3 separate regions of the Homo sapiens genome follow, and all the other regions are reported to be linked to region 1. The links are microRNA targets in miRTarBase. Many come from high-throughput screens and were not tested one by one. Region 1 holds a microRNA gene; each other region holds the end of a gene's coding sequence.

What was found. The annotated mature microRNA hsa-miR-520g-3p reads ACAAAGUGCUUCCCUUUAGAGUGU and lies in region 1 at 2,143-2,166, shown strand. An mRNA with a match to its seed (bases 2 to 7 or 8) in the 3' UTR can be bound and repressed. Matches are read on the target gene's strand: a 7mer-m8 pairs with bases 2 to 8, a 7mer-A1 pairs with bases 2 to 7 and ends in A, and an 8mer does both.
Region 2: miRTarBase lists PIWIL2 as a target of hsa-miR-520g-3p. Seed matches in the 3' UTR shown: 7mer-m8 at 484-490 and 7mer-m8 at 1,366-1,372.
Region 3: the mRNA of GRK3 is a reported target of hsa-miR-520g-3p. Seed matches in the 3' UTR shown: 7mer-m8 at 2,324-2,330.

What each region holds. Positions count from the first base shown.
Region 1 is chr19:53,720,078-53,723,427 of GRCh38, forward strand. It overlaps MIR520G (microRNA 520g), which reads left to right and starts at 2,089; the gene lies at 2,089-2,178. MIR517B (microRNA 517b) reads left to right here and starts at 999; the gene lies at 999-1,065. It overlaps MIR520D (microRNA 520d), which reads left to right and starts at 19; the gene lies at 19-105.
Region 2 is chr8:22,355,343-22,358,342 of GRCh38, forward strand. PIWIL2 (piwi like RNA-mediated gene silencing 2) reads left to right here. Exons shown (of 23, transcript NM_018068.5): 23 at 7-2,226. The coding sequence ends at 163. Among named protein-coding and RNA genes, the nearest start is that of SLC39A14, 10 kb to the right of the region's middle.
Region 3 is chr22:25,721,651-25,725,000 of GRCh38, reverse strand. GRK3 (G protein-coupled receptor kinase 3) reads right to left here. Exons shown (of 21, transcript NM_005160.4): 21 at 1-2,712. The coding sequence ends at 2,551. Among named protein-coding and RNA genes, the nearest start is that of MYO18B, 19 kb to the left of the region's middle.

The DNA.
Region 1 (3,350 bases):
AGTGCCGGAGCAAGAAGATCTCAAGCTGTGAGTCTACAAAGGGAAGCCCTTTCTGTTGTCTAAAAGAAAAGAAAGTGCTTCTCTTTGGTGGGTTACGGTTTGAGAAAAGCAACGTTGAAGTTGATGCTGATTTCGGTAATACATTTGCAGAGCATGCTTATCACACTTGGACGATGGTGGGGTTCTGTTTTGGTTTTGCTTTTTTATTCTAAGGCTCTGTGTTGCTCATGCTGGAGTGCAGTGACATGTCCAATATATCTCTTGGCTTCAAATGGTCAGCCTGGGCAACACAGGGAAATTCTGTCTCAAAAAATAAACAAATGAATAAAAATACAAAATAAAGCCGGGCATGGTGGCTCATGCCTGTAATCCCAGCACTTTGGGAGGCCGATGCAGGTAGATCATCTCAGGTCAGGAGTTTGAGACCAGTCTGACCAACGTGGTGAAAATCCGTCTCTACTAAAAATACAATAACAACAAAAATTAGCCCAGTGTGGTGGTGGGCACCTGTAATCCCAGCTACTTAGGAGGCTGAGGCAGGAGAATTGCTTGAACCCGGGAGGCAGAGGCTGCAGTGAGCCGAGATTGTGCCACAGCATCCAGCCAGGATGACAGAGTGAGATTCCGTCTGAAAAAAAAAAAAAAAAAAAAAAGCTGGGCGCTGTGGCTCACGCCTGTAATCCCACCACTTTGAAAGGCCGAGGCGGGTGGATCACGAGGTCAGGAGATCGAGACCATCCTGGCTAACACGGTGAAACCCCATCTCTATTTAAAAATACAAAAAATTAGCGAGGCGTGGTGGTGGGTGCCTGTAGTCCCAGCTACCCGGGAGGCTAAGGCTTGAGAATGGCTTGAACCCAGGAGGCGGAGCTTGCAGTGAGCCGAGATCGTGCCATTGCACTCTAGCCTCGGCAACAGAGCAAGACTCCGTCAAAAAGAAACAAAAACAAAAACAAAAAAAAGAACCCTACAGTACTGGAGCAAGAAGACCTCATGCTGTGACCCTCTAGATGGAAGCACTGTCTGTTGTCTAAGAAAAGATCGTGCATCCCTTTAGAGTGTTACTGTTTGAGAAAAGCAACGTTGAAGATGCTGCTGATCTTGGTAATACATTTGCAGAGCGTGCTTATCATCAGACTTGCATGATGTTGGGGTTCTCTTTGGTTTGTTTTTTTCCAAGACAGGTTCCCTGTTGCCCAGGCGGGAGTGGGTGGCACCTCCAACCGAGATCTCTTGGGCTCAAGTGGTGATCTTTTTATTTTTGATTTTTTGAGATGCGCTCTCATTCCGTTTCCCAGGCTGGAGTGCAGCGGCAGGATCCCTGTTGACCGGAAACTCCGCCTCCCAGCTTCCGGCGATTCTCCCACCTCAGCCTGCCGAATAGTTGGGAATAGAGATGCCCGCCATCGTGTCCTGCTAGTTATTATTTTTATTGTTGTTGTTGTTGTTGAGATGGAGTTTCACTCTTGATGTCCAGGCTGGAGTGCAGTGTTGCAATTTAGGCTCACTGCAACCTCCACCTCCTGGGTTCAAGCGATTCTCCTGCCGCAGCCTCCTGGGTAGCTGGGATTACAGGTGCCTACTGCCCCACCCAGCTAATTTTTGTGTTTTGAATAGAGACTGGGTTTCACCATGTTGGGCAGGCTGGTCTCAAACTCCCGACCTCAGGTGATCCACCAGCCTTGGCCTCCTAAAGTGCTGGGATTACAGGCGTGAGCCACCGCCCCTAATCTCACGTGGTCCTCTAGAGTCAGCCTAGACTCTGGTCTATCCTGGAGGATGTTTGTGTGTGAGACAATGTATATTCTTCAACATCAGCCCAATTCTCTTAGCTAAATGTAAGGTATGAGTAGTAGGTATTCCTTTTTCTCTTTGGGGACAAAACTCAGGACGATCGCCCCTTGATGAACAAGGCTAACCTGCTGAGCCTTTGAAGCAAGGAATTGGAGATGGTCCTTTCAGGGGTTTATGTTCTGGATTCCATAAAACATGTAAACAGGGCCAATAAATGCATTTTTATTTTTGTATCCGTTTTAACCTGGTCAAGGAAAATTCCAACAAGAAACCCAGAGTGCTGGAGCAAGAAGATCCCATGCTGTGACCCTCTAGAGGAAGCACTTTCTGTTTGTTGTCTGAGAAAAAACAAAGTGCTTCCCTTTAGAGTGTTACCGTTTGGGAAAAGCAGTGTTGAAGTTGATGCTGATGTTGGTAATATATTTGCATGCTTATTATCAGACTTGGATGATGTTGGGGTTCTGTTTTGTTTTTGTTTTCTAAGACAGGGTCTCTGTGGCCCAGGCTGGAGTACAGAGGCACTTCCAACCTAGGTCTCTTGGGCTCATATGGTCCTTTTTGGGACAGTCTTCCTCTGTGACCCAGGCTGGAGTGCAGTGGCACGATCTTGGCTCACTGCAATCTCCACCTCGCGGGTTCAAGCTATTCTCCTGCCTCAGCTTCCTGAATAGCTGGGATTGCAGGGGCCCGACATCACACTTGGCTAATATTTGTATTTTTCTTTTTTATTCATTTATTTATTTTTGAGATGGAGTCTCGTTTCCCCAGCTGGAGAGCGGTGGCATGATCCCGACTGACTCCAACCTCTGCCTCTCAGGTTCAAGCAATTCTCCTGCCTCAGCCTCTGAAGTAGCTGAAACTACAGGTGGCCGCCACCACGCCTGGCTACGTTTTGAATTTTTTTTTTTTTTTTTTTCAGTAGAGATGGGGCTTACCATGTTGGCCAGGCTGGTCTCAAACCCCTGACCTCAAGTGAGCCACTCACCTTGGCCTCCGAAAATGCTGAGAATACAGGCATGAGCCACCACCGCGCGCCTCCCAAAGGCGTGAGCCATGGTGCGTGGCCATCAACACCTCTTACTTTATGGAAATTTTTCTGGCACTGGTATAGAACCTCACATGGGGTCAGGTGGAGTTGAGGGGACCTCAGTGTCCCTGCAGATGGGATGAGCAAGAGCACGGAGGTGGAGTGCATGGGGCTTCAGTGTGTATTGGGGAAATGAAGCTGAAATCTTGGGTGCATGACCAGGAGATAAATGCATGAGACGGGGGTCTCACTATGCTGCCCTGGCTAAAGTGGTCTTAGATCCTCCTGCCTCTGCCCCTCCCAGGCCTTGTTAGATGGGACTACATGTAAATATTAACCCATGCACAGGCAGGAAGAAAGTAAGGACCATTTTTTGGTTCGTCCCGGCCCTCAGTTAAACTTGTGTTTTAGATAAACAATGTATTTGAGATGTGCTTAAACAATAAATGATACGCTATTTAGGTGTGGGCATCTTTGTTTCCCCCTAATTTTAATGATGGGACTAGTCCAGGTATGGTGGCTCCTGCCT
Region 2 (3,000 bases), not on the chromosome of region 1:
CTACAGGCTGACTTTCAAACTGTGCCACATGTACTGGAATTGGCCTGGCACCATCAGAGTTCCAGCTCCTTGCAAGTATGCCCACAAGCTAGCTTTCCTGTCAGGACACATCTTGCATCATGAACCAGCCATCCAGCTGTGCGAGAACCTGTTCTTCCTGTGACTGCACAGCTTGGAGATGGGCTGGTGAGAAGAAAGGCGGCCTCAGAACTCAGCTGTGACTCTTGCAGAATCAACAGAGACTGAAGTGGGCTTTTGTGTTATAATTTTCCCTTTCTCCAACCCTGTAGAATAAGATTTCTTTCTTGTCTTTTAAACCTAATATCACCAAGAAGCAAGTTTCTGAGTAACAGCTGAAAATGGCCTTGTTGCCTGTGTAGAGCAAGTTACGGTGGTACTGCCACTCTGCAGGTGGAGCGGGTGACTCTGGGGGACCATTAAGACCTCCAGACCGGGTGCGGTGGTTCACACCTGTAATCCAAGCACTTTGGGAGGCCGAGGCGGGTGGATCATGAGGTCAGGAGATCAAGACCATCCTGGCCAACATGGTGAAACCCCGTCTCTACTAAAATACAAAAAAATTAGCCGGGTGTGGCGGTGCACGCCTGTAGTCCCAGCTACTCAGGAGGCTAAGGCAGGAGAATCGCTTGAACCCGGGAGGTGGAGGTTGCAGTGAGCCGAGATCACGCCACTGCACTCCAGCCTGTTGACAAAGCAAGACTCTGTCTCAAAAAAAAAAAAAAAAAGCCAACATGAGCTGCAGAAACCAGCAGAAGCAGCCATTATACTTCTAAGCTGTGCCAACTAAGTGGTTCCCATTTCTGGAGCCAGAGATGATAATTAAGTCATTGCAAGTTGCCTGAAGAGAATTACTCAGGCAACTGGGAAAGGCAGTGGAAGGTCTGTGAAGCAAAGTTTTCAAGTAGATATTGCTATTACTGGCAGGTGTGCAAGGCGTGTAGTAAAATCAGTTTGTGGCATAGGTCGGCCCTTGCTGACTAAATCCTCTCTGGGGATTGAATTGATGACGACTGTGACTTGAGTTGGATTCGAAAATGGCTTCCCTTGGCCTCTTGAAAGAGTGCAGATGAAGCCTTTTCCGTGGATTTCAGTAACTTTCCAGCATACCATGACGATTTCTTCCCCAAATATACACATGCTCTTTTGCTCTTTGTGCCTGATCTTCAGTAATTTTTAGTTTTTTAACAGGCAGAAAAAATCTAGCAGCTAGGAAAGTTCAAGTTGGGGTGGGAGTTTTTAGTGAACTTTTCTCCCAGGTGTGTGGCCTTTATTTCTATTTATATATGTTTGTAAATGGAATTACCCCCTTTCTCTTGCAAAATAACCGCTTCCTGGCTGTTGGCTCACTTTGCTGGAATTTTTCTGAATCCAGGTTAAGATTTCCAGAAGTCAGCTTTGGAAAACGTGACACTCCTACCAAAGTCCAGATGGTTAGAAAGTTATCACATACCATGGGTTTCAGTGTTTTTGGAAACCCGTTTTTTTCTGGTTTTTTTTCCCCCCTCTCCATTTTAGAATCTTCTCCCAGTCCCTTCGGGCCTAGTTCTGTCTCATCTTGCTTTATTGGGTTTTAAAAACCGGTCTTATTTAAGCTTTTCTAATTTGTATTTATGTACTTATTTATTTTTTGGTATGATGGCAGGGAGGGGACAAAGCAGAAATACCCCTTTTATATGACAATGTGTGAGAAAAGAAACTTTAGCTTAAAACTCCGTAAAATGTGCTCACTTCAGCAGCACATATACTAAAATTAAAATGATATAGAGAAGATTAGCATATAGAAAAAAAGAAAAAAGATTTCCTTAAAACAAGAAAACCAAGAATGTTTTTGGTTTGTTGCGGTGCCCAGCCGAGGTTGAGGAGGGATGGGTATTGTTGGTGCACTGCTGGTTTCATTTGGAGTGTGGGACATTAGGGTGAGACAAGGACCTGGAATTTAAAAACCACAGAATCAAACACTGTGAACCACTGGTCTCTGGCTAAGCAGATCAGTTTTCTGATTTTCCTTGGAAGCGTTTTGAATTTTTCTGTTGAAGTTGGATTTCCTAATACTTTTTTTCTCTTAGATAATCAGAACAAATGGTTGAATACATTATAATACAAAAATTTCTTCACTTTTTATTCTTGGTTTTCTTGCCTCGTTTTTCGGTTTTAATGCCAAATGATTGGGTCATGGGGTGGGAAATAAAAACAACTTTGTATAAATTTGTAGTTGTGTTTGAAATAATGTTGTTTATTTATTATTATATTGATGTAACTCTTTTTCTTCAGAGAGCTGCAGCACTTCCTAGAAACACTCATTACTCTGCTTGTAAGTTGCAACTCCAGTGTTAGTAGCCAGGTAATTTCATCATCAGCTGGGTAAGAAGACTTATTGAAAAAAACAGTAGCCACCTCACTTCTCAGACAGATGAGGCACTTTGTGTGTGTGTGTGTGTGTGTGTGTGTGTGTGTGTGTGTGTGTCTGTGTGTGGTTTTTAGCTCTCTTTCTCCCATCAGACAATTTCTTTTACCCTAAGTGAGAGCCAGAGTGTGTCCACTTGCAAGGGCAGCCTCCCCACCGCTCCACTATTTTAACGCTTGCCCTTTTTTACATATACCTCACGGGGTGTCTGTCACCATTGAAATACCTTCCCTGGGTACAAAAATCCCATTAGAAGGAATAAGATCTAGTAGTTCAGTGGCACAGTAGAGCAACTATAGTTAACAAAAATTTATTGTACATTTCAAAATAGAGGAGTGGAATTGGAATGTTCCTAACACAAAGAAATGATAAATGAGCCGGGTGCCGTGGCTCACACCTATAATCCCAGCACTTTGGGAGGCTGAGGTAGGTGGATCATTTGAGCTCAGGACTTCAAGACCAGCTGGGCAACATGGGAAGACCTTGACTCTACAAAATATAAAAATCGGCCAGGCTTGGTGGTGTGTGCCTATAGTCCCAGCTACTCAGGAGACTAAAGCAGGAGGATTGCTTGA
Region 3 (3,350 bases), not on the chromosome of region 1:
TAGTCCTAGCTACTCAGGAGGCTGACGTGGGAGGATTGCTTGAACCTAGGAATTCAAGGCTGCAGTGAGCCATGATCATCCCACTGTTCTCCAGCCTGGGTGACAGAGCGAGGCCCTATCCCAAAAAATTAAAAAATTAAAAAAAAACAACAGCCAAGTATACCATGATGTTTAATCCAACTGACTTTTCCTCTGGCCATGCAGGCAACCGGGTGCAGACACAGCGGTATCCTGTGTCTGGTCGCAGAAACACCTCCATCACAACATTTTGGCAGAAGGCACTCAAACCAGACCCCAACACAACTGGTGACCGCCCTCAGAAACAGCTCAATCTAGTCTTACAAAGCACTTTTAATAAATGACATCTAGATGTACTTCTCAACCATATCATTACAAATCAAATGTGAGTTGGGGAAGTGTAAAAGTTTACACTTTTGTTTGAAGCAAAAGGACTTTCAGAGCATTTTCCAATTCATATATCTTTTCTAAAAGGGAGTGGAGCCTTATGTTCTATTCTTAGAGCAGAAATTCTAGTTTTTGAAAGAGATGCGGATCAGCTCAATTTTAGAACAAGTATGGGAAAGTTGAATAATCTTTCTGAACACGTTTGTGCAGCTCACGCCCTAGGTACGAGATATTAGACGCTAAGCCCAGACCCTGGTGGAGTCAACAGCAGGCCCTTTATCCTGGAGATCTAGAACAGGCATGAGGCCCAGCGCATCCTCAACTGCACATGCTGAGAACCTATGAGCTTGAGATGCAGACGGGAACGGCATCAGTCACAGCTATAATTAACCAGGGCTGGGAAGACATTCACTCTTTAAGAACAATGGCTTTTCTGCTTCTGGAGTGTGTGTGTGTGTGTGTGTGTGTGTGTGTGTGTGTTTCAACAGAATTTGAATACTATTCTTCCTTTTTAAATAAGGAGAATGCATGTAAGTAGTACATCCCTCCTCCCACACTGGAAATAACAGATAGTAGAAAATGTATGTTAATTTAAACCCCAACTAGTAGTTGAGATAGACAAAAAAAAAAACCCACATTTTTTTTTTTGCAAAGTAACTCTTATGAAATAATGGACCCTTTTGGTAATTATCTTCCAAACTCTCAAAATAACTGCATTAAAAAGTACTTACTTTGCCCATGAACACAGCAAACAAATACAAAAACAAAGATTTGGAACTGCTAAAAATATCAAGGACAGGATGCAGACAATTACGATGTCAAGTTATTTATACTGTTAGTAGTTAATGTAAAGACATACACTAAAACTACTCCAAGAATGGGACAAATACGTGGATTTGTAAAATTTTTTTTTTAAGACTGATGACATGGGGGATTTCGCTGGTTCTCATAACCCAGCATCTATTTGGGGGTATCAGTGGGGCCTGGAGGCAGTGGGAGAAAACAAACTTCACAGGGCAGATGCTGCTGGGACCAGGAAAAAGGCTTCATGCCCTAAGGTCCTCACTGTCGTACAGCCCAGTGCAAAGTATCATTCATTCATGACAGATGCATGACGACATGAAAGTCAATATACACAGTTAACCCATTTTGACACATTCATTCCTCAGCATTTTTTCAATACAATTCATCTGAAATTATACTAAGACATAAAACAGACCTGCTTTTGTACATCCATTACTGATATGTCTCCCAGGGTCAGGCAGAAGGAACCAGAATGACTGTCACACAACTGCTAATTGTCGAGACCTGAGACGGACTCACCCATGAGTGCTCCTGCATGCCAGGTACTGCTTGTCGACTCGTGCACACTGGACTCAAAGACTTTTGAAAACTGCTCTTGCCCCTGAAACCTAAAACTCCACGGCCTGTCCTTCAGAATCACTGTAAATCTTTCCAATGATGGACGGATGAATGCCTTCAATGATTAGTTAATCCCATACACTTGGATAGTACGTGTCCGTCATTCCCACCTGGCTGAGGGGGCCCCGGAACAGACTGGTCAGAGGCAGGGCAGTCATGTGGGTGCGGCTCCCAGAGGAGGGCCCAAGTGCAGAAATATCTTCAACTTTTAATATCATCAGAAAATATCTTCAACTTTTAACCCCAGGACAAGAAGTCAGTTGCGAAGTGCACAAAAGAAACACACTGTGGCTCTCCCATCCCCCAGCAGTATGGAGCAAAGACATAGAAAATCAGCAGTGACTAGACAGAATATGTGGCAATGCTTAGGGCAATCTGTTACCCAACACTGAACATCTTTAAATTCCATTCTGGGGAGTCTAAGATGTGTTTGATATCAGACATAAAAATTTACGTGATAAGTAGGAGTCACTTCAAGTTCTAGGTTCATAGGTACCAAAGTGTGTAGCAAAGAAAAAGAACTTTTATTTCTTCAGTAGTTTCTAATGCAGACAAATGTGACAAGGCAGGGAGCTGAGCTGACCCCAAGCCGAAGGGTCCCGACTCCTCTCGGGAGCCTGGAGGAGTCCCGGTAGCGAATAGATCAGATGCCTCATCCTCGTTCACCCCAAAAGGCTGAGACCCTGGTGTGTCCTCCTCGAGGACCCTCCCTGTTTCTGGGTGCTAGAGGCCGTTGCTGTTTCTGTGACAGAGGGATGGCTTTGGGAGCTCCACAGTACCTGACCGAGGTTTGTTGAGGAACTTCGGGGCACGACGCAATAGCCGCTGGGCCTCCTTGAAGGTTTCGTTCAACTCTTTCTTCCACTGCACAAACTCTGGATCACTCTGAGGGGGAATACAAAGGCAGCCGTTGTGACAGGCTCACCCATTTTGCCAACAGCGGAGGCTGCCCCTATTGATTACCAGCGTCCCTGGAACCCCTGAAGGAAGCACACCCTACGTGTCCACCCCCAGTGGCATTACTAGCTGATGGGTCACGCTGCCACCTTCTCCAGAATCTCTTGAAAAGAGCAGGGAAAGGCCACATTAAAACCCTTCAGATGATTCCAGTACAATCCCACTCTGAGAATCACTGCCTTTAATTTGTTTAGAGATTACTTTTGATTTCTAAAACAACTGAAATCTATAATAATATAGGGGAAGGAGTTTTGACAAATTAAAAAATGTTTTAAATATATATTCATGTATGTAATGTAGTACTGATGTTAGTAAAAATGATTTTTTTGCATCTAATACGTGTTTATTTCTCTAAATATGCTCTCTTAAAACACACACACTAGTGAACCAGTCACAAAGTGTCCAGGAATGAAATTTGTGTTACAATGTAACTTTGAGGAAAAGATGGCATTTTCGTTTAGAGAAGATGGCATTTCAGTTTGCCGTCTTATATTTATCTAAATATATAAACCTTAACATCGAACATGCCGAAAAATCTTCAAAGTTATAGAACAAATAAAATTCCA